2 separate regions of the Homo sapiens genome follow, and region 2 is linked to region 1. Evidence: fine-mapped expression QTL. A gene starts in region 1. The other region holds a variant in brackets. All regions are shown on one strand. Distances are between the middles of the regions. Region 1 holds the start of ZNF528 (zinc finger protein 528). Region 2 has its middle 3.7 kb from the start of ZNF534.

Region 1 (4,389 bases):
GGAGGGATGCCGTGGCATCAGGAGAGAGTGAATGGGGCTGGCCTGTGGCACACAGTCTCAGCATCAGCAGCAGCCAGGAGCAGGGACAGACAATTCCCAGTCACTACTAAGAACACAGTCCTAGAGACAGGTGAGTGGGCCTGTTGGAAAATTCTTCCCCTTACTGTTTGAGACAGGAAAAAACCACACTGTTTTTACTACTCTCACACCCAAAGGAGAATCCCTCACCTTTAGTGATCAAAATGTGTCTGTGGTTGTTCCTACACTGACCAGTTAAACTGAGTAAAATTACAGAACACCCAGGTGCTGTCTGACGAAGAACTGCTTGTTGGTGACAAGTAATTCCCATATTACTTTGGTGACCAGAGATGAGGCATTCTGTGTTGAGCGCTCTTTATTGTGTTCACTGTGAACACAAAAACACACTGGTTTTTCCTAACTTATACACTCACACCCTAGTCCATCCCAAGAAAAGAGAAGAGTGCCTTATAAATAGTGTTCCAATTCTCATCTTCATGTGTGGTTTTTTGTTTTTTGTTTTTTGAGATGGAGTCTTGCTCTGTCACCTAACCTGGAGTGCAGTGACACGATCTCGGCTCACTGCAACCTCTGCCTCCCAGGATTAAGCGATTCTCCTGCCTCAGCCTCCAGAGTAGCTGGGATTACAGGCGCAGGCCATCAGGCCCAGCTAATTTTTGTATTTTTACTAGAGATGGGTTTCACATGTTGGCCAGGCTGGTCTCAACTCCTGACCTCAAGTGATCCGCTCACCTCAGCTTCCCAAAGTACTGGGATTACACGTGTGAGCCACAGCTCCTAGCCTCATGTGTTCTAAACAAATTTTATATTATAGAAAAATTAATATGTCACAATTCAATCATAATTTCCAATCAACTCACCACTCATCTGTAACCAGGGTCCCCCTCTTTCCTCACTACTGTTTCCCTGCCTCATTCTGTACATATCTCTCATTCTCATCTTTTTTCCTAGCTCTTTTTTTCTCTATTTTCCCCTAGGATTCTGTTCATTTTGAGTCCCTCCTCTTCTCTTTGTCCCATTCTTCCCTCTATTCCTTCTCTCCCACCTGTTCTGATCCATTTTTACAACTTGTTTCACCTCTTATTCCTCTTTCTGCCCAATCTTTCATTGTCCCTAATCTCCATATATTTCTGCCTCTTTCCTCCCACATCTCAGCTCCCCTTGGGGTCTCCCTGTTAAATTCCATCTTCGATATTACACACCCCTGTCCCCACTCTCTGGCACCCTTAGATCCCAGGCCTCCCCCTGCTGTGGTTCTCCCTGTTCTCCTTGTGACCAGCTGCCCCCTCTGGCTGTCCCAGCACCACGCTGCTCTGTCTGACCTGGCTCCAAATCCCTCCTCCTCTCCCCCCTCTGTCTGAGAAGCCTTCCCTATCTTGTTGAATTTCGTCTTTCTACAGACCCAGGTTTGTCTATATTTTTACAGTTACTTTTCTCCCCTGCTATTTTCTCGGCACCTTCTTTCACTGTGCCTCTGCAAACCCCTCACTCACCTTCTACTTTGCCTTCTGTTAATGGGTCTCTCATTCTTCATTTCTCTTTCAAAATTTCTCTATTTCCTCTGCCTCGTTCCCATCTCTTTTTCTCCACACATTCACAGGGAGGGGATTGGAATAAGATGCCCACTTCCGGAAGAGCTCATTTTCTGTGGGCTGGAAACTGGCTCGAGAGAACACTGGATGTCAGGAGACTGAAGTCACCCCCCACACTCGGGGTCAGGAGAACCGGTGGCTGGAAAAGGGAGGCCTGGGGAACAGAGGGTCCAGATTAAGGAGCAAAAAGGCAGGAGTGGGTCAGGAGAGGGGTGGAGTCTGCAGAAACCAGGTCTGGGCAGAGGACGAGGCCTCTCGTGCCCTGTTGGGGCGCTGAGCTCTAGGGGCAAAGAAGGGCGAGGCTAGGGGAACGGAGAGTGAGGATTTTACGTGGTGCGGGGCGTGTGTAGGGGTTACTAAAGGATTTGAAGCAGGTAAACCCCACGATAGGAGGTGTCTACGTGGGTAAATGACAAAAAGACCGGGCACACGACCAGCCTCCAAGCGATTTTAACACGCAGAAAGCGACTCCCAGACTCTCAAAGGATGTCTGAATTTACTCGGGGTGGAGGGAGCGGTGCCGGGATTTCAAGGTCTGCATGCCCCTCAGCTCCCGGGTATAGAAGCAGAGAAGAACTGGCTAGCCTAGACTTAACATAGACAAAGGGAAACTCACGCACTGCTGCGAAAACAGTTTCTCCCTGCAATCGGCTTCCGGGTCTACCGGAAACTGCGCTCTAGGCGTTCGCCCCCCGCGGTCCGCTTCCGGGTTTGCACGAAATTGCGCGCGCATCCTAGAGGCCGGACTGGCTGGGACCAGGGCGGGCCGGGACAAAGCCTGGGCCGGGCCTGCGCTTCCGTTCGCTTGACTGGCTGCGCTTGTTTTCAGGGTTTTGGTCTGAAAACGGATCTTACCTGCGCAGAGCAAAATCGGTTGTAGATTATATCCACGAAAATTCCTTCTATTAAAATGAATTTCAAGTCCCACCTACCCTGGAAGCAGAAAGAGAGAGAAGAGAGAGAGTAAAGAGAAAGAGAAAAGAAAGAGAAGTTGAAAAAGAGAAAGAAAACCAAGAAAGAAAGAGAAAAAAACCGAAAATAAATGGACAAGAAAGAAAAGTAAGGAGGGAAGGGAAGGGAGGAAGGGAAGGGAAGCTTTAGGAATTGAATTAACACACTTTGGAATTGTCTGTGAAGGGGATGATGCAAGCTAAAATGTGAAATGCAAAACCCTGCCAGGGTAGAATGTTCTATTTCATGCCAGTGCCCATAGAAGATAAATACTTTTCATTTATCTTCCCCATTCACTCTAGACGGTGAAGGTCAACCCTGTGCTCAATTCCAGAGACTTTCCTAGGGACATCGTGTTGGGCATGGAGGACTAAGGCCAGTGTGAAGATAAGTCACCGATTCTTTAAAAAAAAAAAGCCAGTAACTTATAAAAATAGCCATAAACGACGTAGTTTTTTGTTGTTGTTGTTGTTTTGAGACAGCGTCTCCCTCTGTCCCCCAGGCGGGAGTACAGTGGCAGGCACTCAGCTCACTGTAACCTCCGCCTCCTGGGTTCAAGTGATTCTCTTGCCCCAGCCTCCAGAGTAGCCACCACGCCCGGTCCAACTTAGTTTTTTAATACTTTTTAAAATTTTAAGACAGGGTCTCTGCCACCGAGGCTGAAATGCAGTGGCGCAATCATAGCTCACTGCAACCTTGACTTCCTGGGGTCCTGGGCAGGTGACCCCCTGTCTCAGCCTGCCGAGTAGCTGTGAGTAAAGGCCTGTGCCTCTCCACTGTGCTAATTTTCTACTGTTTGTTGCTTTGTTTTTAATAGAGATGTAGTCTGGTTTTGTTGCCCAGGCTGGTCTCCAGCTTCTAGCCTCAAGCAGTCTTCCCATCTGCTCCTACCAAAGTGCTCGGATTATAGGCATGAATCACCTTGCATGGGAGATAAGGACCCCCACATCAAGCCCTCAGGTTATTTTTGAAACACAAATACATAAGGCCCACAAGCAGGCCCATTGGCTGCAGACAGTGGGGTCACCTGAAGAACTTTTCTTTGATCTGAGTACCAACTTCTCACCTAGGTCACTGGGATCCTGGACTACGGCACTGCTCCAGGCAGGCCTGGTTATCCTGCTTGAGGCAGCAATCCTCTTGAGCCTAGTGAAATGCAACTGGCTGTACCTCAATGATGTTGCCCTGAGATTCTGCCAGTCGAGGTATTACTTCAATCTCCTGAGACCAGCCTCTACCTCCAGATCCAGGGAGGTCAGTGCACATGTAAATGGACTAGCTTTATTAAAGGGGATATCTGGGCCAGGCGTGGTGGCTCACGCCTGTAATCCCAATACTTTGGGAGGCCGAGGAGGGCAGATCACCTGAGGTCGGGAATTAGAGACCAGCCTGGTTAACATGGTGAAACGAAGTCTCTACTAAAAATACAAAAAAAAAAAAAAAAAAAATTAGCCAGGCATGGTGGCACACGCCTGTAGTCCCAGCTACTCGAGAGGCTGAGACACAAGAATTGCTTGAATCTGGGAGGTGGAGGTGCAGTAAGCCAAGATTGCGCCACTGCACTCCAGCCTGGGAGACAGAGCGAGACTCCGTCTCAAAAAATATAAAAATAAAAGGGATATCTGGATTGGCGGAGAGACTGCAGGACAGCATTCAAGTGGGGTTGAATTGGCCCAGTTGCATCTGACTTCTCACTTGTAGTTCCCAAGAATGAATATAGAATGTGCTGGAAAAGCAACATCCTGAGAGGAAGGGACCGGTGAGAAAAGGACAGGATGTGTTCCAGATCCCCAGAACAGGATCCCCT
Region 2 (4,389 bases), 28 kb before region 1:
CAACCCTGTGCTCAATTCCAGAAACTTTCCTAGGGACACCACCTTGGGCATAGAGGACTAAGGTCAGTGTGAAGTCAGGTCACCAACTCTTTTTAAAAAAGCCAATAACTTTAAAAATAGGTATAAATTATTTAGTTTAAGACTTTTTTTTTTTTTTTAAAGACAGGGAATCAACCTGTGACATCCAGGCTGGAGTGCAGTGGCACAATCATAGCTCACTACAACCTTGACTTCCTGGGGTCATGGGCACCTCCTACCTCAGTCTCCCGAGTAGCTGGAAGTACAGGCCTGTGACATTGGACTGTGCTAATTTTTTAGTTTTATATATTATTATTACTTTGTAGAGATGGAGTCTCACTTTGTTGCCCAGCCGGGTGTCCAAGTTCTGGCCTCAAGTTTTCCTTCTGTCTACACTCCCAAAGTACTCAAATTACAGGCATGAGTCACTGTGCACAGGAGGTAAGGACCCCACATCAGGACCTCAGGTAGTTTTGAAACACAAATACGTAAGATCCACAAGCAGGACTATTGGCTAGAGACAGTGGGGTCACCTGAAGAAATTTTCTTTGACCTGAATAGCAACTTCTCACCCAGGTCACTGGGATCCCGGACTATGGCACTGTTCCAGGCAGGCCTGGTTATCCTGCTTGAGGCAGCAATCCTCTTGAGCCTAGTGAAATGCAACTGGCTGTACCTCAGTGATGTCGCGCTGAGATTCTGCCAGTCAAGATATTACTTCAATCTCCTGAGACAAGCCTCTACCTCCAGATCCAGGAAGGTCAGTGCACACATAAATTGACTAGCTTTATTAAAGGGGATACTGGGTTGGTGGGGAGACTGCAAGACAGCACTCAAGTGGGGTTGAACTGGCCCAGTTGCGTCTGACTTCTCACTTGTAGTTCCCAAGAATGAATATAAAATGTGCTAGAAAAGCAACATACTGAGATGAAGGACAGGATCCTGTCCATCCTTACCAGAGAAGGACAGGATCCTGTCCATCCTTACCAGAGAAGGACAGGATCTGTTCCAGTCCCCTCAGAACAGGATGCCCTTCATTGTTTTAGGCCAACGTGCCATGCATCCCTGGAGCATGAAACCTGGGCCAGGCCGCCTTTCAGGCTCCCTCAGCTGTGATGCGGGAGGAACACACACGCAGACTGCATCTGAACTGGGTGGTTTTCCTGAGCCTTCGGGAACAGCATGCATGAACCCCAGGCATCTGCTGTCGTTGCTGCCAATCTGTAACAAATTCACTTCATGTAACTTACTGTGTGTTCATGGGACTATCTCTCACTCAACTCCAACACGTTGGTAACCAGTGTGCAGTGAACCTGCTTCACAAGTAAGGCTGTGAAGAAATTGTAATCTTCATACATTTGGTGGGAATCAAAAATACTGATGAACGCTTAGGCCCGGCTCATGCGGGAGCATAGTTTTGGTTGTGAGGGTTACAAGTTGGGAACAATCCCAGATGTAGAAATATCCCACCATGGGTGAAACTTCCTGAAAGATCCAGAGGTGCTCCAGGTCCAGATGCAGCTGCTGGAAGCCATGTTTGGCCCAGACTGATCTCAAATCCCTTACATCGAGCAGGTGAGCAAGGTCATGCTCGTGCTGAAGGCTCTGGAGTCTTCAGACCTCACCGAGGTTGTCGGTTACGGCTTCTATTTATACAAGTGCCAGACCAAGTGGATGCCCCAGTCCATGGCTGAGTGGCACTGCCAGTGCCAGGAGCGAGGGATGCTCAAACTTGTGGAAAGCATGAATGCCGTCAAACTACGCCCTTGGGTGAAGTGAGCCAGCTTCCAGCCAATGTGAAGAAGGCCAAGATGTAGAGATCAGGTTGTGGCCATAGCTGGAATGGTAACTCCAGATTGGTTTAAACACTGCTCCAGCCTGATGAATTAAAAACAACAACAACAAAAAAAAAAAAAAAAAAAAAAAACGCCGGGTGCAGTGGCTCATGCCTGTAATCCAGCACTTTGGGAGGCTGAGGTGGGTGGATCACCTGAGGTCAGGAGTTTGGGAGCAGCCTGACCAACATGGAGAAACCCCGCCTACTAAAAATAAAAAATTAGCTGGGTGTGGTGGCACATGCCTGTAATCCCAGCTACTTGGGAGGCTGACGCAGGAGAATCGCTTGAACCGGGGAGGCAGAGGTTGCGGTGAGCCAAGACTGCACCA[T/C]TGCACTCCAGCCTGAGCAACAAGAGCGAGACTCTCTCTCAAAAAAACAAAAAAGAAAAAAAGAAAAGAAAAGAAAAAACCATCTGTCTAGGGGTTTCTGCCCTTGTTCCAAGTCTTGAGAATATCTCTTTTGACAGTTGCCAATAAAAAAAGTAATTTTTCAGAAAAACAAGACTGCAGATGGTATGGAAAACAGTGTCATTGGACACTTCCTCAACTCAAGATCACCCACCAATTTAAAAAGGATCATCATACATTCTGGTGAAAGACATAAAGATTCCCCCAGGGGTAGGGGATGAGGCAAGGAAGTCCACTTTTATCACTACTATTCCACACAGTGTGAAAAGTTCCAGCCAGTGAAATAAAGGAAGAAAAGGAAATAAAAGTGACAGGCTGGATGTGGTATCTGAGGGCTGTAATAGCAGCACTTTCGGAGATTCATGAAGAATCACAGAACTGTGGACCCATATTAGATACATGACCTACAGAATTGTAAAAGAATAGATTTTTGTTCTTTTAAGCCAATCACCGTGTGGTAGCAATGAGGAAGGAGAGTGGCTTGAGGACAGGAGAAAAAAAATAGTGTACTCTCAGAAAATATGATGGTTGCACAGGTCATCCCCGTAACCTGTGTTACTGAATATGTTCTCATATCCTCAACCCTGTAACCTGTGTGACTGGCTGTGGCAAAGAGGAGTTTGCAAATGTGGTCTAGTTAAGGATCTTTAGATAGACATTATCCTGAATTATATGGTCAAAGTGATAGAATCACAAGGTTCAATATCAGAAGGATGCAGGTAGACCCTGAGGGACGGACAGTTGTGATGTGTTGAAAATAGAGGGATAAAGAGATTTTATCTCGCCTGTAAAGATGGAGGAAGTGGGCCGGGTGTGGTGGCTCATGACTGCAATCCCAGTACTTTGGGAGGCCGAGGCGAGCAGATCACGACGTCAAGAGATCAAGACCATCCTGGTTAACACGGTGAAACCCCGTCTCTACTAAAAATAATAAAAATATTAGCCCGGTGTGGTGGCACGCGCCTGTAGTCCCAGCTACTTGTGAGGCTGAGGCAAGAGAATCGCTTGAATCAGGGAGGTGGAAGTTGCGGTGAGCCAAGATCGTGCCACTGCACTCCATCCAGGGACACAAGAGCGAAACTCCATCTCAGAAAAAAGATGGAGGAAGTGGACCATGAGTCAAAGGATGTAAGTGGCCTCTGGAACCTACAAAGGGTAAGGAAAAAAAATTCTTGCCTGGAGATTCATGAAGAATCATAGAACTGTGGACCCATATTAGATATGTGACCTACAGAATTGTAAAAAAATAAATTTTTCTTGTTTTAAGCCAATCACTGTGTGGTAGCAATAAGAATCTGGTGAAATAATTTTATGTAGAAAATTCCAAAAAATCTACAAAAATCTCTAAACAAGGGAAATGTAAAGGTGGCAAGGTATAAGATCAACATACAGCAATCTTTTTTTTTTTTTTTTGAGACGGAGTCTCACTCTGTCGCCCAGGCTGGAGTGCAGTGGCACGATCTCGGCTCACTGCAAGCTCTGCCTCTCAGGCTCATGCCATTCTCCTGCCTCAGCCTCCAGAGTAGCTGGGACTACAGGCGCCCGCCACCACGCCCGGCTAATTTCTTTTTGTATTTATGGTAGAGACGGGGTTTCACCGTGTTAGCCAGGATGGTCGCGAACTCCTGGCCTTGTGATCCACCCGCCTTGGCCTCCCAAAGTGCTGGGATTACAGGCATGAGCCGCCGCGCTGGCCAACATACAGCAATCTTGTATATTTCACTGGCCAGGCATGGCAGCTCATCCCTGTAATCCCAGCACTTTGAAAGGCCAAGGCAGGTGGATTGCTTGAGCTCAGGAGTTTGAGACCAGCATGGGTAACATGGCAAAACCCTGTCTCTACAAAACACGAAAATTAGCTGGCCGTGGTGGCACGCACCTGCAGTCTCAGCTACTCAGGCAGCTGGGGTGGGAGGGTCACTTAAAGCTGCAGGACAGAGGTTCCACTTAGCTGACATCGCTCCACTGCACTATACCTGGGTGACAGAGTAAGACGTTATTTCAAAATAATAATAATAATAATAATAATCTAGCATATTTCTTTACACATGAAAGCTGGTATTAAAAATAAAATACCATGTATGATTGCTCCATTAACAATATCGGTCAGCTGGGCATGGTGGCTCA

The links. PIP is the estimated chance that this variant, and not a neighbour inherited with it, causes the effect.
Region 2: its variant is the best candidate, but not a certain one, in a credible set for the expression of ZNF528 in putamen (GTEx, PIP 0.63).

What each region holds. Positions count from the first base shown.
Region 1 is chr19:52,395,763-52,400,151 of GRCh38, reverse strand. It overlaps ZNF528 (zinc finger protein 528), which reads right to left and starts at 2,303. Exons shown (of 7, transcript NM_032423.3): 1 at 2,248-2,303; 2 at 1,533-1,785. It overlaps ZNF528-AS1 (ZNF528 antisense RNA 1), which reads left to right and starts at 2,395. Exons shown (of 7, transcript NR_125345.1): 1 at 2,395-2,690; 2 at 2,885-2,957; 3 at 3,400-3,542; 4 at 3,653-3,787. It also overlaps a transcript of ZNF880 not described here. RefSeq lists an enhancer at 1,792-2,991.
Region 2 is chr19:52,423,268-52,427,656 of GRCh38, reverse strand. It overlaps the pseudogene DPPA5P1. Among named protein-coding and RNA genes, the nearest start is that of ZNF534, 3.7 kb to the left of the region's middle. The variant T/C (reference allele first, on the strand shown) is at 2,185.